4 linked regions of the Homo sapiens genome follow. The protein of the gene in region 4 interacts with the protein of the main gene of each other region in a pairwise test. Each region holds a gene or a part of one and is shown on either strand. Other genes may lie near its edges. The genes, in order: PON1, KLHL32, ZNF277 and PTCHD1.

Region 1 (7,028 bases), on a different chromosome or scaffold from region 4:
ATGAGGGATCGTCTGATGATGAAATGGAGGTAATGGGTATAAACGTGGTTCTTAACCCTAGCCTGACATTTTTATCAACTGAAAAACTTTTAACAACTACTGTGATCCAGGCCTCCCTCAGACTAACGGAATTGGAATCTGTCAAGCTGGGGGCTGGGCATCGAGTCTTTTTAAACTCTTCAGGTGCTACCATTGTGCAACTGGGGCTGAAAATTAATACAGAGACAAGGAAGTGACAGCAAATGGAAAGGGAGAAAGGGAGTAAAGACATAAAGGATGACACCAAGTTATGTTGAAAGGGACCAACATGCAGAGGAGCATTTTGAACACAGAACAGAGGAACCAGCGGACAGGAGGCATTGAAGATAATGGGACCGGCAGAAAGCTGACCATGGTGACTTTCTGTCACTGGACCTATAGCTTACAGATGCCTTGGGTTAGAAAAATCTGTTCCTGTAAATGCCCGAGTCTTGAAAATCGTTTAAAATGGAAAAGCTATAATGATCAGGGCTGGATATTATTATTATGGTAATTATAGGGATAATGTGAATGTTAGTATTTTACAAAATTAGATGCTTTACAAATCTTAAATATTTTAGCATTCTCAAGTATTTAAGTGGTTTTACTATAAAGTTCAATTAACATAGAGGGTAAGTTTAAAACCCAGAGTAAGAACATTATTCATGACTATGCTTTGTTTGAATGAGAAAAAATAATTCATTTATTGGCATGTTTTTCTGTTTTTGTTTTAAGTTTGGTTTTGGTTTTAATAAATAGTAAATATTGTTACCTTCATCTGTGAATGTGCTAATCCCATGAGGGTTAAATGAAGATACATCAAATTTACTTCCAGTGATCCCCAATTCCAACACTGTTGGATCTTCTTCATTCAGGTCCATCAGAAGTATTTTTCCAGGACTGTTGGGGTTGAAGCTCTTTATTCCAGGATACTTTAATCCCTTATAAACCATGGAGGAGAAAAATCAAGCACAATACCAGTACTTCAAATGCTAATAGAGGCGCTGCATGGCCCATGGGTTCATGTTGACTGCTCCAAACCACAGGGCTAGCCAGATGGCCACATAGGAAGCCTCTTAGTTAGCTTCTGTAATGGGTCCCCAGGAGAAGTCTTCTGGAAGCCACATGCTCCACTAGGCCACCCCACACAAACCCTTTCATCCCCTGCAGCAAAGTCATATGTGCACGACACTACAGCTTCCAGCCCATGAGAAAGATCAAAAATGGAAGAGCAGACCAAAAAGGCAATTAATAATAGTCTTCAATGATATAAGCAAGGAATACAGAGAGAATATTGCTTATGGCTTTTAAACTGTTCCCTGGTAGGTCCTTGGAAGCATCTCAAAGACAGAGTTTTGGTGGGCCAGAGGAACTACTCCTTTCTTAGCCTTCAATCAAAACAATAAAGCTGTTGTTTTATATATTGTGTTCCCATATAAGATTTTGCTTGAAATACACCTTATGTTGCTCAAGAAAGTTTGCAAGACATTGCTTTGCAGGATGACTAGTCTATCATCTTTGTAAGAGAAAACTGGACTAAGTAAATTACAAGGGGTAGCAAAGGTTTTTAAATGGCTGGATGATTGTCTGTCGTTTCCTATCAACTCTGTTATGTTATGATCCCTAGGCCAGATGGTGGACTTCTTTTGTTTTGCACTATATCAGCTACCATAGCGATCTATATGCAGGACAGTTTCAGCAAATATGGTGGATTCTGTCTTCAAAGCTTGGGAATTGGGAATTGGGACCTATCAACAATTTTAAATTAAAGGGCTTATTCTGAAATTTGTTTAAAAATGTGAAAGTTGAAATGACCTGTGAAGTAGTATACATTAAATGTATATTTAATTTAGCAAATATTTGAATATGGCAATTTTAAGTGCTTAGGGAATAGACAATTGAGAGGAAAACAATTCTTGAATACACTGAACTCACAAAAAAATTGCTGCAATAGAAGCTAACGTAATATGGTTCAATGTAGACCGAAGAACACAAATATGCATAGAACACGCATGATCATAATTATAGCACAAGTGTAAATGCATACACAATTTGTCTTTTAAACCATGACTGTTCATTTTATTTGAAAGTGGGCATGGGTATACAGAAAGCCTAAGTGAAAGACTTAAACTGCCAGTCCTAGAAAACGTTCTAGAACACAGAAAAGTGAAAGAAAACACTCACAGAGCTAATGAAAGCCAGTCCATTAGGCAGTATCTCCAAGTCTTCAGAGCCAGTTTCTGCCAGAAAAGAGAACAGAAAGTACAGGTTGTTTCATATTATTGCAGGATGTGGATCCATTTCTTTATCACACCTCACTTGAAACTGGGGCTATACATCACTCTTCTTTAATAGGTTCAGAATAATTCATTCTTTCATTTATTCAAATTGATGAATGCGATTATATGGAAATTAAAAATATATTAATTCATTAACAAGTTTAATTAAAATTTACACTTAGTATATTTGTTTTAAATTGATGGACTAGAGCTTTTTCCTCAAAGACTGAATCCTCTTAAAGTTCATGGAAATTCACAAAACGTACAAAAGCCATGATTATTTGAAAAGAACTTGTTTTCTAAAGATACAAGGTAAATTACAAATATATGTTGATACTTAATACTTCCAAATCAATTAAACCCTTGGAAAGCCATATTGAAGATATAAGCAAATTCCAAATAGTTGAGTTAAAATGGGGATACATTTTAGGTGATCAAGAATATGAATTTTTACTACTAATTATAAACATCGGTTAAATATTACTGTCTTCAAGTTAGTTATACTTTAAGTACATGTAAATTTTTAACATTTCAATTTATCTAGAGAAAAATGAACTATTTGATAGGTATTTCTACACTTAGTGGAAAGTTTGCTTTTCAAAAACCCAGTGATATTTGATATCAATATCATATTTTTCTAGAAAACAATCGCACCATAAGATATCTAGTGAAATTTAGTGGTACTAAGTCATCTGATCTAGCCTCCTGAGCCTTAATCAACTGAGATGAATAATTCTAAAAGAACAAAAAAAAAAAAAAAAAAAAGAAAGAAAAAGAAACACCCAAAGCACACAAAAGCATGATCTCAAACCAATTGTCTTCAAATAACAAAGCTGGTTGGTTGGAACCAGCTGGAGAGTTGAGCCCGGGGACTCTCCTTGTTGGTTGCCTCCCAGCTGCTATTCTCCTACCGTTTTATCTTTGCTGACAGGGCCTGCCTCCCACATTGGAGGCTTGATAATTACTTTCCCAGCATCCTTTGCAACTAGGGCACCAGCCTGTCCTCCAGCTCTGACAAATAAGATCTAAGGGGAAATCTGCTGAGAGCTTCTGGAAAAAATTTTCCTGTCCAATATCAAAAGAGAGATGCATAAGGAGAAGCCTTGTGGTAATTGCAAAGTCCTGTCAGAGCCTTTCTAAAAAAAAGTTACCTTTATTCAATGCTTTATCTGGCTCTCCCTCCCCTCTTCTGCCATCTCCTCAGGTTAGATTGCCATGGAATCAAACATTATTCTATTTTTCTTTTTTCTTTTTTTCTTTTTTTTTTTTTTGCTCTATTGATCAAACAAAAACAAACAACCAAAACTCCCAACACCTTGGCAGTATGTTGGTGAAGTCAAAAGTCAAACAACATGGTATTTATCATTAACTACCACTGACTCTCCTGATTCAAAATTTTATTTTTGGACAGAATTGAACAGGCACATTAATCACACAAAGAGCAAAAAAATACCGGAAGTTCAAATGAGACCCTTCTTCCTCTCACATACATACCGATTCCTTTAACTAAATTACAGTTAGGAAGTTCTACGGGTTGTACCTCTCGGAGAGCATTAAGTCGTGTTCTGTGGGGGAGAAAGAAATAAAACACACACAAAACTATTCAGAAATTATAATAAGTTGCAAAGGTAGGCAGTCCACAAAAGTTCTCCTTCACTGTACTTTGCCTGAGTTTCAACTCCAGAGTTTTTCCTGCAATTTTTCCAGGCAAGGCCAGGGCAAGACAAGTGGGGAACTCTGGGTACAATATTTAGTTTTTATTTAGCAGAGGTGGATAGGTACACATAAGAGATACATAATATCCTCTCTAGGGCTCTGTGTACTTTGGCAGGAACAGGAGCAATTTCATCAGTGTGTAAGGACTCCTAGGTGGAAAGTCCGGGTAAATGGCAACATGGTTCCAGTTTATTCCATTGATGTTTTAGAGTTGCTGACAGATGGGCAGCCTCCTACTCATCTGCCCAATCTGACTCCGCAGCCTGGACTGGGCATCTGCTTTGTGATGTAGTGCTTGAAAAATACAGGTACGTTGAAAGGATTTGTAACTTCAGAAAATCATACACAAGGCCTGCATGTAAAAAGGCATTTCACACACACAGGTGCACTCACACACATACACAGGAGCGACTTATTAGATATGAGTGCATAAACACCATAGAAAATGTCTGAGTAAAGGACAAAGGAAAAATGAACAGATGTGAGAAGGAAGTGCCAGCCGGCTGCCTGAGCAGAGCGAAGCTACTGATGCTGCATTTGAAAGAAACAGACGACGTTAGCACAACCAAGAGATTTAAACAATAAACTTTTTTTTTTTTTTTTAGAGAACTAGTGATACAGTATTGTCATAGCAAGTAGTGACAATTATCCAAATATCCCTAGAAATCTTATTTGGCTTCAGATAGGCTAAGAAATTTACTTGTCCTCCTGATGACTTGAACTCACAGGAGGCGGATGGGCTACAGGCGGAACAGACACGCTAGATAAAATTCTTACCGACGTGGTACAAAATGATAGGAATTTGGGGGTGATTGATCTTTCATTTATTCATTCAGAAAAAAATGAGTACATTCCTACCATCAGGCCACTGGCTATCATTTTCGCTGTCTAAAAAAATCTGACGTAAGAGGCAAGGAGTGCCTCTTAATAATCTGCTTTGTAAAAGTGCCACAGTTTGTCCCAACGTATAACCAGAGTAAAGAGCCACCAGTCTAGGTACTAGAAATACAGAGATGAATGAATAGATGATGAAGGCTTGGACTGTGAGGAGACTGTGGTTTCCTGATTGATAGATGTGAACTTAGAAAGCAGGCTTCAAAGGAAAGTTGGAATCTGTCCCATAACCTAAGAAAGGGAAAGGTATTTTCAAAATGAAAATCTGACATTATAATTGCAAATATTGACAATAAGGAAATAAAAGGGGAAGTGATAAAGCAGTGGCTTACAAACTTTTCAGACAGAGACTCACAGTAGGAAAAGTATTTTATATGGTGCGAACACCCAGCACATGCACACACATACACATACACATCTGAATCAAGCTTCACAAAACAATACTCATCCTAATCTGTGTCATACATTCATAACTTTTCTGTTCAATTCTGTTTTATTTATTTTTAAATGTTGGTAATTATTTACTAAATTGACTTTGTTACCCACCATTTGAAAAAACTCTGGTCTAGGGAAAGTGTAGTGAATATTTGTAGCATGCCCTCAAGGAACCAAAGGGCAGGTACAAGATGTTAAGGGTGATGGTCATAACCGAGGACAACACAAAGACTGGCATGGAAGGAGAGATTCAAGGACATAAAATCACTGAATGGGCCAAGACTTGTGAAAAACACCAAGGATAGTCAAATTCACTTTTCTTAGACTCAAAACCAATGGGAAGAATACTCATGCTGCCTGACTCACAAGGGTCACTAAACATATGGGTTCACAAAAGATGGAGAAAGGCAGAACTGGTCAGCTCCTATTCTAATTCAGGCTTCTCTCTCATAGAAGATGATCTCTAGCCTGGAAAACATAGAATAATCACAGTTAAAGGGAGCCCAGGGTGGGCAAGGGGGCATTAAGTCAGCACTTGTTGATTTGGGTTCCAATTTGTGGCCCAAACATGTCATATCTCAACAGGATAATCATTACTACTATAGTTCAGGTACCGTATATGCCCGCGTTTAATCCTCAAACACCTCCGTGAGGTGTTATTTTCCCTAAGTTATAGTTGACCAAGATTAAGTGGCTTTCTAAGGCCACAGAGTTATAAAGTGGCTGAGCAGGGATTGGAATTCAAGTATGAACACAAAGCTCACATTTAGCTCTCTGACCAGGCAAAATCTACAGAGAACACTGCTTAAAAGCTGGAAGATGCACCTGAAAATTGACCCACCTGTGTTATTATCATCCAACTCATATTTTTTCTACCTCATTTTCAATTTATTAGGAAATATCTTGTCAAAGGCTTAAGTCCAAATGTTCTGGGCCTAAGAGATAAGGGTCAATGTCTGAGATATATCTCTGATTCACTAGACTCTGAACTCTGCGCAGAAACCATACAGCCTTTGCTGTGAACTTGTCTGAGTCTGCTTTGTGTCACTCTAAAGGAACATCTGAGGCTAAGCAACTGATAAAGAAAAAAGGTTTATTTGGCTTATGATTCTGGATGGTTAGAAAGTTCAGGATTGGGTATCTGCATCTGGTGAGGGGCTCTGGCTGCTTCCACTCATTGCAGAAGATGAAGAGAAGCCAGTACTCACAGAGATCATGGGATGAGAGAGAATGTAAGAGAGGGGAGAGGTACCAGGCTCTTTTCAATCAACCAGCTCTCTCGAAATGAATAGAGTGAGAATTCACTCACTCCCAAGGAGGTCATTAATCTATTCATGAGGGATCCATCTTCATGACCCAAACACCTCCCATTGGGCCCCACCTCCAACATTAGAGATCAAATACGAGGTTTGGAGAGGACGAACATCCAAACCAAGGCAGAAGTATTCGGTGAAAATACATGCTGGCTGCTCGCAGAAAAAAGCAGAGATCTTTGCCTAGGCATTAAGAAATCCGTATCGATTCTCAAACTCTTCTTGGGGCCAAATTCACTCTAATCAGTCTATTTTCTGCTACTACACACGCCTCATTCATTCAAATTGCTTTTCATGGCCTACTATGTGCCAAGCTCCAATAAGGGCTCTCACACATACTTCCTCATTTAATCTTTTTAGCCACCTTTGAGAA
Region 2 (7,028 bases), on a different chromosome or scaffold from region 4:
TTGATACCAGGACGACGGATCTAGCGAGTCTAAGAGGAGCTTCTGTGCTTTCTTAAGGCCTCACTGAAGAAGGTATTAAATCGTCATATCTTTAAGACTATGTAAGGGAAACCCCAGCATTCTTTTACAAGCTAGGTTTACAGCCAAAACACAAGGAATATTTATTAAAATATTTATGAGAAATTCATACAAAACTTAGAAAATGCAGTGCAAAATTTAGGAATACAGTATATTAATAATATATGAAACTAAATGAGTCAATGGAAGGAATGTCAATTGGGAGAAAACATAAATGGCATTGATTTCATAAACCCATCGTTGTTTTGCCATCCAAGACAAGTACAGATCTGTTCCTTCTGTTAGCAAAGACTTATTTGCTGCCTAGCTTGAAATTTCTCCAGCACAGCTAAAAGAATATAGTCTTGGTGGTTATTAACTGTTGAAATATACATTTAAAGAAAAAGGAACAGTAATTAGATAAATGAGGTTTTAATTTAAATATATCTACATATACTAACATACATACTTGTTTCTAATGTTTCTTTGGTATAGAGCCAGTAAATGTTGGGTCCACTTCATCTGTCTGCTTCCTTAGTCCTAGTCTTCCCTTCATTCATTAATTTATTGAGCACTTAAACCCTGATGTGAGCTAGGTTCTGTCAATAAAACTCAGTGAATTGCCAATAACTGAGGCACCGCTCAGAGAAGCTGAGCCTGTGACTATCTTCCTGGTTATTGAGGACAGCAGAAGAACAGTCAAAGTCCAAATGAATTTAAAGAAGTGCAAGGGAGAATTTTGTCAGAGCAGGTGTTAGAACACTAGAGACGATTATTGAGGAAAGCTGAGAAGCCTTTGCAGGTGTACTTAAAAGTAATGATTTCTTCTAAGTACAAACATCAGGGTTATTCTTAATATTTAAGTTTTTTACCCTTTCTATTCCTCTTAGTGCTTGATGACACAGAAATCCAACAAGTTCCATTTGGATTACAATATGAGTATCTTCCAACTGGGAGAAAATGCAGCTTTCTTCCTGATAGAAAAACCTTTCAAAGGAGAACACTTAGGGCCTTTCTCAAAACTAAGATTGAAAACACATGTTTATAATGTGATGTTGATAGCATATGCCTCACAGACTCCTTCTGTATAAGCAAAAAGGCAGCCCAGAGGGGTGTGATGGGTCTGTGGGTGTAGAGAAAACAAGATTGGCAAGGAGTAGTTAATTGTGGATTTTGGGTTGTGGGTACATGGGGTTCATTATTCTAGTCTCCCTACTTTTTCCATAATCAAAAGGTTTTCAAAAGAGATGAAAAGGTAAACTAGAGCTCAAACTGTACCATCAGTAAAAATAGGAGAGTAAATAGGAATGAAGGGTTAGAATGGCACAAGTAACTACCATTCACGGATAATTAAAAACAAACAAACTTTGTTTTAGGCTGGGCACAGTGGCTCACGCCTGCAATCCCAACACTTTGGGAGGCCAAGACTGGTGGATTGCTTGAGCTCAGGAGTTCAAGGGCAGCCTGGGCAATGTAGTGAAACCCTGCCTTGACAAAAATTACAAAAATTAGCTGGGTGTGGTGGTGTGCTCCTGTAGTCCCAGCTATTTGGGAAGCTGAGGTGGGAGGATCACTTGAGCCTGAGAGGTGGAGGTTGCAGTGAGTCGAGATGGCACCACTGCACTCCAGCCTGGGTAACAAGAGTGAGACCCTATCTGAAACAGCAACAACAACAACTTTGTTTTGGTAACTTAAATCCCTTCTCTCAATGCACAGCATAGTGATTACTTGGATATATACCTATTGATATACCCAGAAAAATGGATTAACTGGGCTTATACTTCTCTTGCCTTGTCTTTGATGAAATGGCTCTAGTCAGGTAGCCAGGGGTGAAAGAAAAAGCAAAGGACCTAGATAAACCACAAGCTGTGCAATACAATCCATGAATAATCAAGAGCTGACAGGAGAAGTTCTGGTAGGAAAAAAACAGTTGTGATGGACCAACAATTTCCACCTTGAATTTTTATTCCATTAGTCACTCAGAAAGTCACAGAAAGGCATATTATTTCCAATTACATTGCTCTCTAGAGTAGGTGCTCAATAAATGAATGTTAATTAGCTAAAATGGCATGCTTGGTTCAATCTTTCAATTACACATGGCCACAGTATTAAAGCTTGACTTTTAAATATATACCACAATGAAAGTGTGTTTTGATAAATCCAACATGAGGTATGTTCTACCTGATATCCAAAGAAGACCATCAGCCACATATCCAGCATGGCATGAAAGGGATCTGTCAAAGGACTGAACAAAAGTCCATTTGTTCTTCTTGGGGCAATATCGCTCAACTGTAGGCAGAACCTGGCGCAGTTCATTTCTGCCCCCAACTGCATAGAGGTATTCCTCCATGGCACCCAGCACAAAATGCTCCCGGCAGTTTTTCATGGGTGCTATCTCTGCCCAGGAATTACTGCGGGGGTCATAGCGACAGGCAGTCCTCACAGCACACGTCCGGCCACTGGCATGCTCAACTTCCCCTCCTGCCACAAACAGGAAGTCCCCCATGACTGCCACACAATGGTGGCTCCTTCCCACAGGCATGGGAGCCAGCTCACTCCAGTTGGCAATGGCAGCTATGAGAGCATTCTCCTGATCAACAGGATTGAAGTACCGAAGTTCCTTGACCTTGCAGACCTCGCGCTTTTTCCCACCAATGATATACAGAGTGTCTGACTGGAATCGTGGTTTGGTCCTGCGAGTCTGCCAGACAGGCTGTGCATAGATGCTCTGGTGGTATTCCAGGGCCTCGTTGACAAGGGCTGTTGCAGTCTCACTTGCTTGGACAAGGGGGTGGGACAGGGCAACTGTATGGAGAGTATCCACATCCATTAGGCCAAAGCGGATGTATTGCAGGAGCTCGTCCATGTACTGGTAGTGGCAGTTGTGTTCCAACCACCTCACAGCTAGCTGAAACAGAGGGAAGTGAGATGAGAGGAGACACAAAGGTAAGAAAGAAAGAGAAAGCAACAGCATATAGGTAGGTTACCTGTATTCTTCCAGGCAGGTAATAATACAAACTTTCTTACAAACAGTATAACTGGAATATTTTGAAGCCCATGTGAGGAACTTTTTTTCCGTCTCAGCAAAGACACAAAAGCACTCAAGACATTGCTGTAGGGGTAAGAAACAATGTGAAGCAACACTGATGGGGGCTTCAGATACCATTTGGGGTGAACAGTAATTGATTTTCAAAGAATGAAAATGCTGTTGTGAAACAGCCTGTTCCCTTATGTTTCATGCATAAGAGGCTCAGTACACCCCACCACCAGGAAATGTCAATGGTGGGAGGTGTCATCAAAGCTCAGGTAATATATGTCAACCCATAAGCCAAGGTGCTGTATCAATATGAGTAACGTAAGAAAATATGTGATCATCTGAGACCACAGGGTGTACTTGAGAGAAAGTCAACATAACACTAGCAGAATGATTTAGAAAGAAAAAAGACTCCCCCTCCCACCCCACATCCCTTTAGTAGGTATAACAGTCAGGAAGCAAGAAAAGAAAAAATAAGATTCTAACCTATTAATTTTTTCTCTCAATTAACTTTTACCTTGAAGACAGTTGTAATTTGCACATGTAAGATACTGGAAATTTGTTAGAGTCGTTTGCACAAAAACAGAATATAGAGGAGATCATCTTTGTATTATGAACATAATAGCAGAATGTAATCCTAACCTTTTTATTCCTTTCAGATCTCTTCTAAGAAGGAAAGGAGTTATAACATTTTGATATGAGCAAAGAGAATTTCTTAAAACTAAAGCAGGTACATTGTCATACATAATAAAAATTATTGTTTAATTTTGTTATAATAATTTTATAAATAAAATTATATATTTATTATTAAATAATAAAGAATATTGTTTCATTTTGTTATTTATGATAATGTACCTGCTTTAGTTTTAAGAAATTCTCCTTTTTTTTTTTAAAATTAAAAAAATTCATCAGGGCCAGGCATGGTGGCTCACGCCTGTAATCCCAGCACTTTGGGAGGCCTAGGCAGGCAGATCAAGAGGTCAAGGGTTTGAGTCCAGCCTGGCCAACATGGTGAAACCCTGTCTTTACTAAGACTACAAAAATTAGCTGGGCGTGGTGGCACGTGCCTGTAGTCCCAGCTACTCGGGAGGCTGAGGCAGGAGAATTGCTTGAACCCGGGAGGTGGAGCTTACAGTGAGCTGAGATCCCACCATTGCACTCCAGCCTGGGCAACAGAGCAAGACTCCATCTCAGGAAAAAAAAAAAATCATCAATGAAAAAACCACAATTCATTTATGGAGCACCTAAAGTAATTTAATTAGTGTGACTTAATAGTTAAGTTTGGCAAACCTTCCCACACACCAGCATAATGAAGTATATCTAACATCTCAGTCAACATATTTGATATGAATTATTCTTAGCAGCACTTACATTAAAGTAGATCTCCCAGACAATGTGAATGTGAGTCTGAAGGAATTAGCAGGAAAGAATGAAGCAAAGAAATAGAATATTAAATAATTTTGATAGGGACAGGAGGCAGGAAATTCTGGGCAGAAGAAGATGGGTCCCCACTGAGGGCCCCACCCTCAAGCCTGGCACCGCAGCCCAAAGTGAGAACATACATTCCTGTTTCATGCTGGAATGTTGACTTTTCCAAAACCACCCATGATCCACCCCACCCCCCCATCCTGTACCCATAAAAACCCCTGACACAGCCAGCAGAGAGGAGAAGTGACTGAACATCAAGAGGAGAAGCAGCAGCTAAATGTCAGAGACTATAGTTGGAGAGAAGTGGCTTGACTTCAGAGGGACAGCTTGACAGCATAGCTTCAGAGAGGAGTCCAACAGGGGATGGCCAGACTTCAGGGGAAGATTACCTTCCCACCCCATCCCCTTTCCAGCTCCCCTTTCTACTAAGAGTCACTTTCATTGGCAATAAAATCCCCCACATTTACCGTCTTCATCTTGTTTGTGTGACTTCATTCCTCCTGAACGCCAGACAAGAACTCAGGTGCCAAGAGGGTGACCCTCCACTGAGCTGTTAATATTTAAGCCATCCACAGATGGCAAAGATAAAAGAAGGTGTACCATAACACTCCTTCTGGAGCTTTGGGGGCTACAGGCACTCCCCACTAGATGCTGTGGTGGGGCCTGCACAGAGTTTTGCTCCTGCCAGTGCCCAAAAGCACTTGCCAGGTCCTGCACTCACTCACCTGCATGTTCCGTCCCATGAGGGGTTGGGTGCAGCGGGTTCGAGTGAGTGAAGTTTACCTCTGCTGGCACTGAAGCGGCTGGCTAGCCCCAGCACCCGCATTCCAGTTCCCGCCCGTGAAGGGGTCAGGGAATCTGGAGGCCCGCCCAGGATCTTCCTCTGGGAGCCTGCCTAGGATACATCAGAAGGGTGAGTAAAATGCAGATCTGTCTCTTCTTGTCCTCAGACTTTCTTCTGAGCTATGCCTCTTGCAGGGGACAGGATGCAACACTGCCATCTCTCTCTTTCCTGCAGGTGAAAGGAATGTTGGCTCTGTTTCCCTTCATGGAGGCTTAGCCACCATGTGGGACCAGAATAAAGTCCTGGGGCAACTGAAGGCATCTGGCCAAGGCCACTCCTCAGTGTTGCTGGAAGGCCCCTGGACTGGACCCAGTCCCAGATGTAACAGGTGGTTGGCTAAGACCCCCCCCCCCCAAGACTTTTCTGTGGTATCTTTCCTTTCTTCCTTTGTGGTTTGAAATGGCTCCTTATCTGTTCTTTTATAATGTTAAGGTTTTGCTACAAACTTCAGAAATGTTACTAAGTAGAATAAGCATTTGGCCCAGCAATCAGATAAGCAATTCAGAACAATGTGAATTGCCACAACCATCCCCACACCAACAGCAGCAGGCTTCTGTTTTGAGTTTGCCCCTGCCGGCACCGAAATAGCCAGCTAGCTCCATTGCCCGTGCTCCGGTTCCCGCCTGCAAAGCTGTCAAGGAAAATATCCTGCTTCAATTTTATCGTGCTTTACTTCCTTTTTGAACCATGGAATCAGGATTCTGGGCTTCCCTGTTCAGATAACAGATTTTACTGGGGGATCAGGGGAAATGTACTGAGGGAGGGAAGAGGAAATGTGGTATTCTCAGACCACTGCTCCTTGGCAAACACAAACTGGGTTTTCAACCCGGTGAAAAGAATCACTAAACTCTCTAAGGCACTAGATGATTTCAGACATTCAGAGTTTCTGCATCCAGTTGAAAAAGGGCTCCAGAAAGGCAAGATGCATTTTGGGCTTGTCTTTTTAGTTTTCTGAATGAAGTGAACGTGGAAGTGAATTCACTTCTGCTACGTCATGAATTGCATCTCTTAATGAGTGACAGAGTGAGAGAAATGAAAAAGGAAATGTCGCTAGGTGCCAAGGAGGCAGACACGGTAGAGGTCAAACAAGCGATACACTCTAGATGCTTTTATAGAAGGTAGCATTTTTAACTAAATAAGATACCAACCTGACAAAAAATTATCTATGTATGGTAATATCTGCAATAATCAAAGATATTGCAAAAGAAATGAGTGATATGGAAAAATGGTACTCATCAATCACCAGGTCTCTGCCAGAAGTGGAGACAGTTCCCACATGCTGCACCCTAGATTTTCTCTACCCTAATCTTGGAATTTTCAAGACACGGGGTTCCAATTATTTCTGGGGAGATTGTTCAGCAACTTGATAAATAATTTTCCACTCTTTGCCCACAGTGTTTTTAAAAGTTCTCAGGGATAAAGTCATCCAGCTCAAGGTCATTTCTTATGCACCAGGGAAAAATTTCTGAAACGTAATATTTGCTATTGTTCCTAATTTAGTCAAGTAATTCTAGCTGATATTGCTTTGCTCTGCAACCAATTTCTTGGCATTCTTATATCCTTACAGTTCTGCATCCACATAGATACTACCGGAAACAGCACTAGAGACATTAGATAAATATCCATGTCTCCATAGGCTCTTTTTATAGCATAGTGCTGCCCATT
Region 3 (7,028 bases), on a different chromosome or scaffold from region 4:
CTGGTTCAAAATACTGCTTTGTTTCAAAGCATACAGTTTAGATGTATCTTCACTGATGATGGGAACATTTTCATTTTGTTCCTGAGCTGTCAGGTCACTTTCACTGTCAGATAGTGTACACAGGAGAGTGTCATTTTCATAGGTTGGAAAATAATACCTGAAAACAACCACAGATACATAGTATTAAATTACCAAGCTAATACAGTGTCCAGGTAGCTGAATGTACACATTTACTATAATTTTGTCAGGTATCCTTGCCAACAATTTCATAGCATTTTGCAAAGGCTATACTGGAGACAACTTCTGATTGCTTTCACTTTGACTTTTACTGGCTGACATCAACCTTACCAAATCTACTATCCAGATTTGGTAAACCAAGATCGTGGACCTCCCACCCTCCAGAGTTGCCTCTGGAGTTGTCCGCTGGCCACTTAGCCTCTGCTTGATCATCTATCATGATAACAAAACACACTATCTTCGAAGGTAGCTGACCCCAGTAGTGGGTAGATCTAGTTGTTTGATACACCTCCTGTGAAGCTAAAAATGACATCTTTCTCATTTCTACTCAAAGGTCCTAGTTCTTCCTTATAAGTTAACAAACTTCAAATATAGTTAATTTTTCAAACACAAATTATTCAAATAATTGAGAATAATAAGCTCTTCCTTGTGTTTTGTTTTCCAGCCTAATAGTTCCTTCTTTCTAGGTAATCACAAAAGGAAACACTTACGGAATATAAAGTTTGTTATTCTGGTTCCTTCTCTGAATACATTTTGAAGTTACTTTTGGAATATTACAAATTTTAATTTATATAAGAAGGATCATAAAAACAGGGTACCCTCACAAGTGTGGGATTTTCTGAAGGAGAAAAACTAGAACTTTCTGGTTAAAGTTCTGGGGGAACTGACTTAACATTCCCTAAGAACAGAAGGAGCTCTGGGCAGCTAGAACCCCACAGTCTCTCAGAGGAGCCCTCGACTGAGGTTATCCAGAACGATGTGAGAACCAGTCCAGAAGGTTCTTGGCAAAGGATACTTGGGAACCAGTCCACAAAGTTCTGGCAAAGGATACATGGGAATCCAACAACAGATGACCAACTGCTTAATTTTTTCAAGTGCCAATATACAAAATATATACAAAAAGTCCTAGCAGTGTGCAAACTCTGACATAGTAATTTTATTTCTAGGAGTTCAGCTTAATTAAATAATTAGATAAGTGTGCTAAAATGTAGGCATATAGATTCACTGTATCATTATAATAGCAAAAAGTAAGAAACAACCTAAGTATCTCGCAGAATAGATTATATCCATACAATGGATATTTAGCAACCATTAGAAAGGATGCAACAGATGGATACTGGCTATTGAAAGATATTTACAATATTTTGTTAATAAAATATAATTTAAAAAATCTGTATCTACTTCATCTCTCTACATATGTATCTATCTCCATATCACAAATACTGAAAAATACTTGGTTTCATTTGTAAGAGGGGGATTATTTTAAAAATAAGCATTTTGAATATTTTTACATTTTTCCCCACACTGTACTGATGTATACTTTTTATAATAAATATGTATTCCTTTTTTTTCTGTAGGCTTAAAGAAATTAAATAAAGGGACAAAATCAAAGAGTTGGAGTAAGAAGTGCACATTTGGTTTTGCAGTACGTACTCCAGTTGATCCCACGTCTTTCTATCGGGGAGCAGCGAAGTGTGTTTAGTTTCTTCCATGTGAGTTCTTAAGTCTGCTTTGGATTTGAACTTCACATGGCAGCCATAACATCTGCATTGGTGAACTTGCCTCCGAATAAAATTGACCAGTTTCACTTGCTGATAGAAATTTAATCCTGAAAATGACAAAATACAGAATCATTAGACAACTGTTCAGACCCATTTTTTGCACTATTATAATTTCTTAAAGGAGCCACTTATTTTTATTAATCAACCTGAAGAGGCAGTACAATTATAAAGCATAATAATAGATACCAAATAATAACAGCACATATTTACACAGGGCTTATGAGCTAGGCACTATTCTAATAATTTTCCATGTATTAATACATTTAATCTTCATAAAACCCTATCAGATAGGTAGTATCATACCTACATTACATATTAGGAAACTGCCTAGCATCGCATAGATAGCTGTCAGCTGCAAAGCCCATGCTTGACTACTAAGCTAATTATATAAACAATGTATATATATGTCTATAAAAGCAGCAAAGTAACACATCCAAGGACCTAGGAAAGCAGTGACTGAGCTGAGCTGTGAGAAGTAAGTTTTTTACTGTCTTAGATCTATTAGCAAGTCAGTACTTTACGTATGTCTTAATGCCCCAAATCGTTCTATTGTTGTGATACTTAGAATGATACATTGGGTACACCTATAACAAACAATCCTAGCTATACTGCTAAGCAGTGCAGTAGCCATTTACCATACATTATTCACTCCTCATAACATTTTTCTGACCTGAGGCCCAATGTCATAGCCAGTAAGTGCCAGAGCTGGAATCTGAACTCTAGTTTGACTTAAAAATCCATATTCCACTAGCCCCCTCCAATTTATGATATATTATTAACCACTAACTTATATTTCACTTGAAGCACTCATATATGTAGGAAAGAGAAAGAAGGAGTATATGAAACCAAAAACCATATTTGACTATTATGGTTGAGCATCACTGCTTCACAGAGAGTTCTGTCAAGACCATCTATAGAGAGACATGTTTTGGTGGTGCACTCTCCAATCATAGCTACTGAACATAGGCATAGCTTACAGGATGGTTTATAAAAAATGAAGCATCACAGAAAAAAACCTCTGAATCAAACTTACCAAGTTCTGACTTTATTTTGAGAAGATCAAATTCGTGTGCATCCTAAAAAAGGAATGAATACATCTGTAAGCATATGAATTATTTAATCTTTCAGGCTGAAGTTATAAACAACTTATTCACAGGAGTTTGAGTAGTTTAGAAACTCAGTCTGAGTTCGGTATCTTCTGCTTTTGAAGTCTTCCAAGTCTAACTACTTCCCTCCATACCCAACTTTTTTACAGCATAGTCCAAACAAGTCATGTCAATCAGTTAAACCATTATAATTGGGCCGGGCGCGGTGGCTCACGCCTATAATCCCAGCACTTTGGGAGACCGAGGTGGGCGGATCACCCGAGGTCAGGAGTTTGAGACCAGCCTGGCCAACATGGCAAAACCCCGTCTCTACTAAAAATACAAAAATTGGCTGGGTGTGGTGGTGGGTGCCTGTAATCCCAGCTACTCAGAAGGCTGAGGCACGAGAATCGCTTGAACCTAGCAGGCAGAGGTTGCAGTGAGCTGAGATCGTGACACTGCACTCCAGCCTGGGTGACACAGCGAGACTCCATATCAAAGAACAGCAACAACATTATAATTGCTCATAGCTTATATCTATAGTTTTTATAATTTACAATGTTATCCATTTTGTAGCCTTCTAAAAATGTAGAAGTCTATGTATGCATTCTGCAGTGTGATAAAAGTGTAGGTAAGATATGTTTCTATTGTACTGTGCATTTGGACTAGAATTATGGATATAGGTTCTTTGCCCCACATAGGTAATTTTTACAAATTCTGCTTTTCATTTTATGCTGTCAAATACACTGTTTAAACCTCAAAGCTTCTCTTCACTCACACCTTCCTATAAATCACGCTTTCTTTTGATTTTTACAATGCACTTATTTTTTGCGTGTTTGTTTGACACCTGCAATTGTCTGTGTAAATGTTTTAACCTACAATCTCACAGATGATAAAGACCATTTAACTCACTGGGATGGCATTTAGTGTAGCACCATATGAAGGATGATTAGGAATTCGTGATGTTATCACTGAAAGTGACCCAGCAGAGGTTAAGGACACCTGTCAAGGATGCCGAAAAGGTAATCCTTACACAGGATAGGCATACTAAGGCTGCCTTCAATACAAAGACATTAAGATATTATGAATTAAATCTAAACACAGGAAATTATACACACATACTAGTGGGAACCTTTTTCAGAGAAACTAAAATCAAGGAAAATGTTTATGGTCTTTTGAGCGCTTTCTAGGCCCTTATTTTACTAAACTAAGAACAGTATTTCTGAATAAGGGTGAGGTGAAAGTGGGTGAAAGTAGAGAATATGGTCCACTATTGGCAGAGGTGGCTGCAGGGAGGGGACGGAGAGATATCAGAATCATCCAGTAATATTTTTCTATTATAATCACCCCTCTGCCCACAAGCTGTGATACTATCATGAATCATTACATGTTCCCCTTCCCTATCCGCCTTGTGCAGCTAAGGATCAGAGGTGCAGGGTGTGTGTCCTCTCTCAGGTATACTGGGGTGAAAAAGGTTTAGAACTGCTAGCTCCAAGCTTCACTATAACATAAAAATGGCATCCAGAAGGGAAAGCCCACACTAGGAATGCTCCCTAGTTTCTTCTCTCTAAATCCTGGCACCTGAAGGAACTGTAGGATCATGCCCTAGCTCCTCTCTACCCACCCTCCTTTTTCCCTATTCCTCCGGGACCTTTGTAAATGGCAATGTTCTCCCTTCTTGCTCTCCTATTCACCAGCACAAGAAGCACTGGAAAAAAGACTCAGAACCTGTCCCACCTGCTGAGCTAGAATGATCTTGTAAGCATCTCAAAGGTGAGATGGCATCAGTGGTCTGAGAAATCTCACACTAACAAACAGCTCACTCGGGTCCAGTCAACTGTACTAACTAAATTGCCCTGAGCTCTGGTTCTCCCTGACAGACCTGGCCTGTCTCTTCTGGTTGGAATAATGATTGGGAAACTGAAGTAAAAGCAGATGAGGGTGCAACAATTACTAGCTTTCCCCTGTCAGAATAAAACAAAATTCAAATAAATACAGGTATCTTACCTCCATGTGGACATACAACTTCTCAATTGTTTCTGCTTGCTTTTCACAAAATAAGCAGACTGCAGAGGCAGGGTGTTCTTCCCAATCAGACCAGTCACTGAATTAAAAAAGAGGAGAGAAAATACGGAGATTCCCTTCATTAAGAGAGTATACTACACAGTGACTTGGTATTGCTTTCTCCTTACTAAAAAACCCTGCCAATCTCTTTCAACTCTGACATTTTGGTAAAGACTGTCACATCATATTATGACTCTCTGATATAGCTTTTGAAATTCAAAGCAGCACCATGAAATTAATATACATAGTGAACAGGTGCTGTTCCATTTTCTCCTATTTGCCGTTCTTCTGAGTAGCTATCTCAGTCTACAGTCAGAGGAATGTCGTCCTGAGACAATGAGGTTTAATTTGCAAAGGAGACATATCAGAAAATGTGATGCTCTCTCCCATTAACCACAACCACTGAGTGCACACGCTGTGAGGTGTGATGCCGGGAATGTGTTTCTGCATGACAAATAGTGTATTTTACAAAGGCAAACCGTGTCTCTTTCACGAGGGAAATACTGATTATTTTAAACTGGGCAAGTGTTAAATCTGGCGGTAGACAGGGAACTCAAAAAGGATACAGGATCCCTTTTACCACTTTCCCCGCTCCTTGGCATTTCCCTTTTTGAAATACTACCAACTTCTTATCATTCCCAAACCAGGAAAACTGCCAGGAGGGAAGAGTTGTGGAGACAAGGAACACCCATTCAAATTCAGATGAGAGAATTTTTCATGGCAAGCTCAGAAATGATCACTGATAAGACTCTCAAGATCAACCTAACCCAATTCACACAGAAGCTTCCCTATTAGAAAACAGGAAACATTTTCCTTAACTCTATCCATCCAGGAGGGAGCCACCAGTCCCGGCCCAGGTCATGACTTACTATTTATAACCTTTTGTGTCATTAAAACTTTAACATTCACTGATTAAATATTCCAACTAGTATGTCTTAATGGGAAAGATGTTTTTATTTCAGTCTGGAAGACTCTCTGCCTGAATCTCTATGCATCAAGAAAATTCAGCAAATGGCAGCTCTCTACCTTTGGGCTTTACCTCACTATTAAAATAATAATAATTTAAAATCCTGAGAGAGAAAAAAGGCCAAAAAGCTTTGACTGAAAAGAAGATGAAAAATAAGAAATCCTTTTAGGTTGAAAAGAACATTTCTCAAGCTTATAATTTCAAGCAAAGAAGCTGTGAATGTTTAAAGTTAGTCATCAATGGCCCGAACACAGAACAGGATTAACTTCAATGCAGTTATATTCTCTATTCCAATGACAGCAACATGGAGAGTTCAAAGATCACATCACTTCAAGGTCTGAGCACTAACTGAGCAGGCAAAGCACTTCGGAATGTATTTTTCTCTGAATTATATATTACTTGTGTGTTCAATCAATAGCTTTAATTTAGTTGGAATAACAGTGTCTTTAGGAATTTTTATGTCAAAGTTATTTTGAATTCAAGTTTTTGCCACATTACATGAAGGGATGCATGGCTCAGAGAAGGTATTTTTTTCTTCTTATGTTCCCGCTTCATAATTTAAACCAAACTAAAGCATTGTCTTCTTACTCTTGGAACACTGCAATTAATTAGCAGCAATAACAACTCTTACTCTTCCTGATGGTCCAGCAACTCCCGATCATCTTCCAACTGAACTTCTTCCCACGATTTTCCAAGTTCCTTTGTAGGAAGAACAGAGGGATGAGAGACATTGGGGGAAAGAGAAGGGAGAGAGTATGTAGAACTTTGAAAAAAATCAAAACCAAAAAAATAAACAAAACCACCCATGTTTAAATGGTTTTGAAACAGTACAAGTAGGATATACAGATGGCCCAACTTATGATGGTTTGATTCAACACTTTTTTTTGACTTAATGACAGTGCAAAAGCAATATGAAGTTGAAACCTTAATGAGATAATTTTTTAGAGAAGCAGCAATATCCTTTCAGTCAAGTTCTTTTCTCTTAAATTTGAACCAGTGTTTCTAAACCCTGAATGAGTATTAGAATATCTGGGATTCTAATGGCCTTTGTTCATTGTTACATTTCCAGAGCCTGGCATACAGTGGGTACTATTACTATAAACTATTTTTTGA
Region 4 (7,028 bases):
GAGAATCCCTCTTTGGCATGCTGTGCTGTGAGATGTGGTGAGGAGAGCCCTGAAACCAGAGCCCGCAGCCTCTCAGAACCTTTAATTCAAAAGGCACTTCCCTGGGCAGGAAGTGAAGGCTTTTTTTGTGTGCAAAGCCCCATCAGGCATGAAGAGTAGGTTCTGAGCCCAGAGGAACCACGTTGGTGTGCTGGAATGCAATGCACCCATCCCCATCCGCAGCTCTGCCTGCCTAAGAACTTTCTGCAGGTAGAGGAGCTGCATGCTCAGCAGTAGGTTGAATCCAATTGTCTGTAATGACTCAGATGGAGTCATTAAAGACCAACAAATTGGCAATATGAGTATTGAATGTAGCTTGAGCACCCATTATTGCCTGTTGGATCAAAGAAAAAAGTGGCTACATGTGTATTACTCAACAGGCAATAATGGCTTTGAAAGAGCTGGCACATGTGAGGAAATAGCAGTCATTTTCAAAGTAAATAGTAATAATGATAACACACTTTACAGAAGGCTATGGTTACACAGTGCCTTCACATACTTTATCTCATTCTATCTTTACCTTAAGTGGGTGAAAGAGATGCTATTACACCCAGTGCAAATAAGGAGCGTGTTTCTCAGGGAGGTTAGGTGACTTGCCCAAAGATACATACTTAGGAGAACTGGAACTTGAACTTGGCTTTCCTGATTCTAAATCCAGTTTTCTGTTTACAACAGTTAAATTTGAGCCTTGCTACTCCAAGTGTGTTCTGCTGATCTGTAGCATCAGCATCACCTCAGATCTTGTTAGAAATGCAGACTTGCAGTTCCCACCCCAGACCCTTTGAATCAGTCTGTATTTTAGCAAGATGCCTAGGTGACGTGTGTGCATGTTAGAAAGTCTGAGAGCAATCAAACAATCTTTACTCAGTAGGACTACTTGCCTATACCACAAGACCAAAAACAAAATCCAACAACTCAAACCTCATACAATTAAGGTATAAATATCACAAAATGTTCTTGAGCATTTATAATGACAGCTCTATAGCAGAGATGCATTATTTTTTCTTGAGACAATTAGAAAGAATTGACAAAGCCATGGTATTAGTGACAGCAGGAGAGCCTCATGGAGGAATGGGTAAAGGAATCTTTATCTTCCACGCTGAAAAATTAGCAGTTTTAGTGTTTCCATTAAACTCACAGAAATATGCTGATTTTGTACCAGTATCATTTTCTTTTAAGTTTGCCTCTTAGAACAATACTTTCTGTTCCTCTGGGCTAACTTTTAAGAAGAGTGGGACTAAGCAACATCAGAATGGTGATCTCCTGAACACTGGTGCTATGGTCAGGAAAACCACTTGTCCTTGATGTTTTCTTTTAAGTGTGTTTCCTATTTACATTTGAATATGGGTGTGGCCAATGTTTTGAGACTTTTCTTTAAGTAAATAAGGGAATGTGTAGTGTGGGGACTTGGGTTCCAGGGTGCTCACTGGGAACTGCACAGGGATCCACCCTCCCACATGGAAATGCACCACTGATTGGGGACTGAGGTCAAGTTCATACCCTCCCAAACTGTACTTGGACCAGAGAAGGTTGTCAGATATTTGGTTTTCCAAGAATTTCTCCTCATATAAATGGCAGCAGATCTGGAAACAGAATGGATGCTTATTGCTTATCAACAAGTTTGAAACCAAGATTTGTCAAAGATGAAAAATGAATATAGAGCACAAGAAATCACATGGTCATGCTACCAGGCAAAATTATATTTGACCAAAATAAATCAATAGGGAGGCAGAGCACATTTTCCATCTTACAAGCTATAAACCAGTAACAATTTATTAAGCACCTGCTGCAAACTCCACATTATGCTAGGCTCTAGGAGAGATCTGGCAGTGTCAGACATTGTTCCTGCCCCTGAAGAGTTCATTACCTCTCTTAAGAGAAACGATCACATGACAATATAGCAAATTACATAAGAGTCTACAGCTCTGCATTAAAGAATGTGTATAAGAATGAAAGCCCAATAGATTTAAGGGAGAGAAGAAGCCATGAATCTGAGAAAGCCTCATAAAGTAGAAGGCATGTGAACTGGTCCTTAAAGAGAGGAGGGAGGGCACTTTTAGGGAGAACAACAAAAGTAGATGTGTGAAGATGGGGGCCTGCAGACTTCTGTATTCATAAAGGTGAGAATGAATATGTGCCTCTCAAATGTAGAGGTCTGGCATCTAAAACCACACATCCTGTTGGTGTCTAGGCCCTGTTTGGAGTCATCTTTACCAGCATCCACTGGCACTTGTCAAACTTGGGAATAACTAAATAGCTATGCTGGATGATTCTTAACTGTAAGCTTCATGGAGACAGGGTCATAGCCATCTTGTTGAGTAAAGGGATGAATATCCATTCCCTAGAAACGGGGCACTAAATCTCTCGATGTATAACTCTAGATGAATATAAGACCCTTAGGGCAGATGCTCTCAGGGTCCCACCCATATAGTCTCAGCTCACACTCACCTCTCCATGCTAAGGTTGCTTGCCACAAACACCTGTAGCTCTGTACCCAATTCTTTTAAAAAAAAAAAAAAAAAAAAAATATATATATATATATATATATATATATATATATATATATATATAGGGAGAAACACAGCATATGAAAATGCCAGAAATTTAATGCTTCTAAATGTAGTTGAATCAGCCGATGATGGCTGGAGTTGGGGAGAAAATATTCAGCTTCTTTATCCACAACTGAGATTTCTCCAACACATTCTACAGTGTCTCCCAGAGTTCCCTAGTGAGACTGAGCCCCAGTTGCCCACAGTAGACACTTGCTTAATAATACTCTCTTGATTGGCTTCCTGCTACTCACTGTTTTACTTCCCCACTCCCCTATCAGCCTTTTCTGATATCACCTCCCAAGATAACCGACTGCACTTACATAAATCATCTTAACTGTACTTGAAGCCTATGAATTAAACCTAAAGTGGAAGACCTAACAATGGGGATCTTTCAAAATAGCAGAAACAATATTCTCAAGAGGATTTCTTAGAGAGCAAGAAGATAAAAATAGCTTTTTCTAGTTCCTCACTGCCTCCTTTTGTTCAAAATATGAATTCAGAAGTTGCAAGCACAACATATTATTCAGGGCTTCCCGTAAGAAATAACAACTGGTGTTGATTTTCTTTTTTTCCTTTTCTTGTCTTTTAAAGGTTAGCGATTACTCACCTCCCCTGCTGGTCATTAAATCAGTCTGGCAGGATTCCTCGGTAGTTCTGTGGCCTTCCGGGTATGTGGCGGAGACACAGGCAGTGCTGCAGACAGGCCTGCTTGCTGTGATGTGCTATCAAGCAGGTGACTTCAAAGGTCTGCTTTAAGCCTATCTCAAGTATCACTTGGGGCTCACACTGAGCCCCGAAATCAGGTACCAGATGGCACATCCCACAAAGTCAAAGTTGATCAGCTCACCAGCATCTCACATTTCCCTGGCTTTTGTGCCAAGGGACTGGAAACACTCAGGTAGAAAACAAATAACTTCTGTTAGCTTACTTCTCCTTCTCGTATTTTTAAGGAGTCATCAGTTCAATGCTTGACTGTCCTGTGAGCTTTATAGGTCTGGTGAATCCTGAGAGGCTCAGTTTTTGTGGTCATTTAAAATAGAATCATCCTTTCCTAACTCTAATATGGCATCTATCAAGATGCCATGAGTCATTACAAAGGTGGGCTTCCTCTCCCACTAAGGCTTTATATCTAAATTTCAGTTTAATCAAAGTTTGTCTCAAATGTGTACCTAAATGGAGAATTAAAAGACTGCTCCCCAAATCTAAATGAGACAAGTGGGCATTTTACATACTAATCGCAAAAATCAAATGTACTTAAAAGTCAGACAACCCTAGGATGAGACTGTGCTTAGATTATTCGGATACACTACCTACGAAATGAAAGGAGAATGAAAACCGATCTCAGTCTCTCCTTAATTTTCCCCTAGTACAAAAATAAAGAGTAAAAGTCAATTGACTGACCCAGCAAATACACAAATGCTGCCCTTTCAGGCCCAGGCTCAATCTTTTCTAAGAGTATCTGCCACTTGGATAACTCACCAGAAGAGACTGGACTGCCCAAGGCTTCATAGCACCTGTCACCAAACAAAGCACCCTGAGATGCTAAGAGAAGATTCTAGCATCAGCCTCTGTGGAGATGACCTTTAAGGTGCCTTCTAAACCGAAGGTTCTTTGATTCCGTGTTTCTTTGATACAAGCTCTTCTCTTGTCATTTTATACTTGGAAAAGCAGAGAGACTGGAATAGGCAACAAAGCACTGCCTCCTGCCTCCTCAGGTCGCTGCTCACAGTGGGGTCTTACACACTGTCAGAAGAAGCCCGACCTAAGTGGGCGACTGCTGCTGACTGATGCTTAAGGCATGCCAATAATGGGCACTCTAGTAATGGACAAGTCTCAAAGGCCAGTGTCAACTTAGCCCCTTCGTCATTCAAGCAGTTATACTGCATTCAGTTTCTTGGGCTCCTCTACAGCAGGTGGGATTTAGACCTGAAGGGACAGAGCCATCGAAGAGAGCAAGATAACTGCATTTTGGGGACGATTACACTGGAAAATCTGGTCTCTGCTCAACTGCCCAAGAGAGCATCACCTCAGAGGTCATAATAGTTGTCCCCAGAGTTCTATGAACTTCTCTTTGGCATTTTTTCATTTTACATAATCAAAGTAGCAAAAAAAGAATCTTTATAAAACAAAAGAAACATGCAAAGCAGAGAGTTTCTCCACCTTGGCACTATTAACATTTGGGGCTGGGTAATTTTGTTGTTGTGGGGGCTACGCTGTGCCTCTACCCACTAGATGCCAGTAGCACATGCCTCTTCCCCAAGTTGTGACAACCAAAAATGTCTCCAGCCATTGCCAGATGTCCCCTGGGTGGGTGCACAGTCAGCCCCGGTTGAGAACTACTGCCTTACAGATTCACAGTATTAACTTCTTGAAAGTGCTCTAGTAATGACATTTTAGAATACAACATAGGAACTTTGAATGTACAGATAGCAAATCTCTCGGGCTTCGCGAGCCACAATTTCTGCTATATAGCTTTCTTGGTTTTTGTTTTGTTGTGTTTATAATCTTTTAAAACTGTAAAAACTCAGTCTACGTTAAAAACTAGGCTGAAATTTGCTGATCCTTAGATTGTGGAGGAAGAAATGATGGTGATTCCCATAGTGATTGCAAGTGTTGAGACAGCATTTGGAAAAACTATGATCTTGATCTAGCTACCCAGTCTTTGTGACCCCGAGCTAGCAGTTATGCTGCCCTTCTTGGAAAGCCTGAAGTAAATAACTTAAGGTTAGATTTTATTAACCTTGTTTGCAACTTAATTCTATTTAATGTATTTAAACATAAAAGCTTTAAGTAAAACAGAAACTTGATATTTGAGCGAAATGAGATCTCCTAGTAAATGGAAGAATGTTTGCTATGTGAGGATGCGTCCTTCCCGTGGTTTGGAATAAAACATTCTGAGTTTCCCCTGAAGAAGAGGACTTTGTACAAAGGCAATTCCCCTACCCAATTTTGAAACTGAAATACGCTTTGATATGACTACGGGGGTTATCAAGGAGGGAAGAATGATATCTTGCAAACAAAGAATCCTAGTAACTGTCTGTAAAGTTGTAAAAATAAAAATTTCACTATGTAAATACATTTCAAATTCGTTTTTATGGAATTTTCTTTAACTCATCACATAAATGTCTGAGTAAACTAGGGAGGGTCTATTCAACAAGTATTTATTGAGTAGCTATTATGTGCCAGGGAGTGTGTAAGGCACTAAAGTTCAGTCAACCTGGACCCTGCCAATGAGCAGCACTCAATCAGGAAGCAGCTACATTCAATCATCCAGAGATTTTTTTTCCAAAAAAATCTTCTTTCTATCCTTGTATATTGTTAATTATAAATATCTTATGCTTTACTTTGGGTATTTGGAGTTTCTGTATGTGGATTTTAATTGACACTAGACAGAATCAGTCAAGAAAAATATTCTTATGATCCAATTACCACTATTAGAACAACTGGATGGGATGGGATATAAAACTTTGGTCAACTGTACTTCATTTGGATAACAAAAATGTACATTTTAAATCATTCCAGTAGTGTATCATATGAAAGTAAATTACAATGAAAAGCACACTGGGCTTGGAGTCCAAAACCCTGGGTCCAGTCCAGTCCTGGTTCTAGCCTTGTATTTTTTCCCATGGACAAGTCAGTTAACTTCTAAGAAGTAGTTTTCTCATATGTAAAATGGGATATAGCATTTTTCCCAATTTACTGTATTTAAACATACTGTATATTTCTAACCTATAAAGTCCTATAAAGATGATGTCATTATCATAAGTACTGGGCTGTACTGATTCTTCACTTTAAATAGATGATTCCGGAATAAATCAAGAATTGTTTTGTTAACAGCCTGGATCAATTATCAAAGGGACCTACTTACACTTCATTTTAGGTGATCGCAACGAAACGTATCTATAAAAGCTTGTGAGGCCCTCCTTTGAAATTTGCTTTGAGATGAACATCATGGATCTTCTGTTAAAAGATATAATCAGCTAAATTTAATTTTCTAGGAAAAGGAAGATGTTTGAAGAGCAGCATGTATGTAAAGAGGTTCAGAAATTACTGCATGAGCCCTTATCAGCACCACCAGGTCCTACCCACTTTTGCCTAATAATGCATCGTTGCCCTGTAGCCTTCAGGGGAAACCAACGCTGGGGGGAGTCATGCCTCACAGTGTGGGGTCAACTTCTAAGCTACAGTGGTCAGAGTATGGTAATCATATCACTTGCGCATATTCGAGAAAGCTCCTCCAAACCAGATCAGCTGGATTTTTGAAATACAGATATTTTTCTGTAATACTCTCAATTACATTTAAAAACGTCAACCTGGCTTTTCGTTTTCTGTCATCACTCCCTCCCAGTCTATTTTTTTTTTGTCAGCAAATAGTGGGACCAATATCCCAAGAAGGATCTCCTTCACTGCACAGGTACAATCCCAAAACATTAAGAG

Evidence for each region.
Region 1: the proteins of PTCHD1 (region 4) and PON1 interact in a two-hybrid assay, tested with the Homo sapiens proteins (one study listed by BioGRID and IntAct).
Region 2: the proteins of PTCHD1 (region 4) and KLHL32 interact in a two-hybrid assay, tested with the Homo sapiens proteins (one study listed by BioGRID and IntAct).
Region 3: the proteins of PTCHD1 (region 4) and ZNF277 interact in a two-hybrid assay, tested with the Homo sapiens proteins (one study listed by BioGRID and IntAct).

Annotation. Positions count from the first base shown.
Region 1 is NC_000007.14:95,314,532-95,321,559, forward strand, and holds part of PON1 (serum paraoxonase/arylesterase 1), read right to left. Parts: intron 3,863-7,028; coding exon 3,792-3,862; intron 2,259-3,791; coding exon 2,203-2,258; intron 960-2,202; coding exon 791-959; intron 1-790. UniProt on the Homo sapiens protein: Hydrolyzes the toxic metabolites of a variety of organophosphorus insecticides. Capable of hydrolyzing a broad spectrum of organophosphate substrates and lactones, and a number of aromatic carboxylic acid esters.
Region 2 is NC_000006.12:97,109,720-97,116,747, reverse strand, and holds part of KLHL32 (kelch-like protein 32), read right to left. Parts: intron 2,966-7,028; coding exon 2,239-2,965; coding exon of another isoform or gene 2,180-2,238; exon of another isoform or gene 2,005-2,179; intron 1-2,004.
Region 3 is NC_000007.14:112,335,690-112,342,717, reverse strand, and holds part of ZNF277 (zinc finger protein 277), read right to left. Parts: intron 6,615-7,028; coding exon 6,547-6,614; intron 4,989-6,546; coding exon 4,892-4,988; intron 2,876-4,891; coding exon 2,833-2,875; intron 1,847-2,832; coding exon 1,672-1,846; intron 1,664-1,671; exon of another isoform or gene 1,596-1,663; intron 158-1,595; coding exon 1-157. UniProt on the Homo sapiens protein: Probable transcription factor. Involved in modulation of cellular senescence; represses transcription of the tumor suppressor gene INK4A/ARF, perhaps acting via the Polycomb group (PcG) complex PRC1.
Region 4 is NC_000023.11:23,337,849-23,344,876, reverse strand, and holds part of PTCHD1 (patched domain-containing protein 1), read right to left. Parts: intron 1-7,028. UniProt on the Homo sapiens protein: Required for the development and function of the thalamic reticular nucleus (TRN), a part of the thalamus that is critical for thalamocortical transmission, generation of sleep rhythms, sensorimotor processing and attention. Can bind cholesterol in vitro.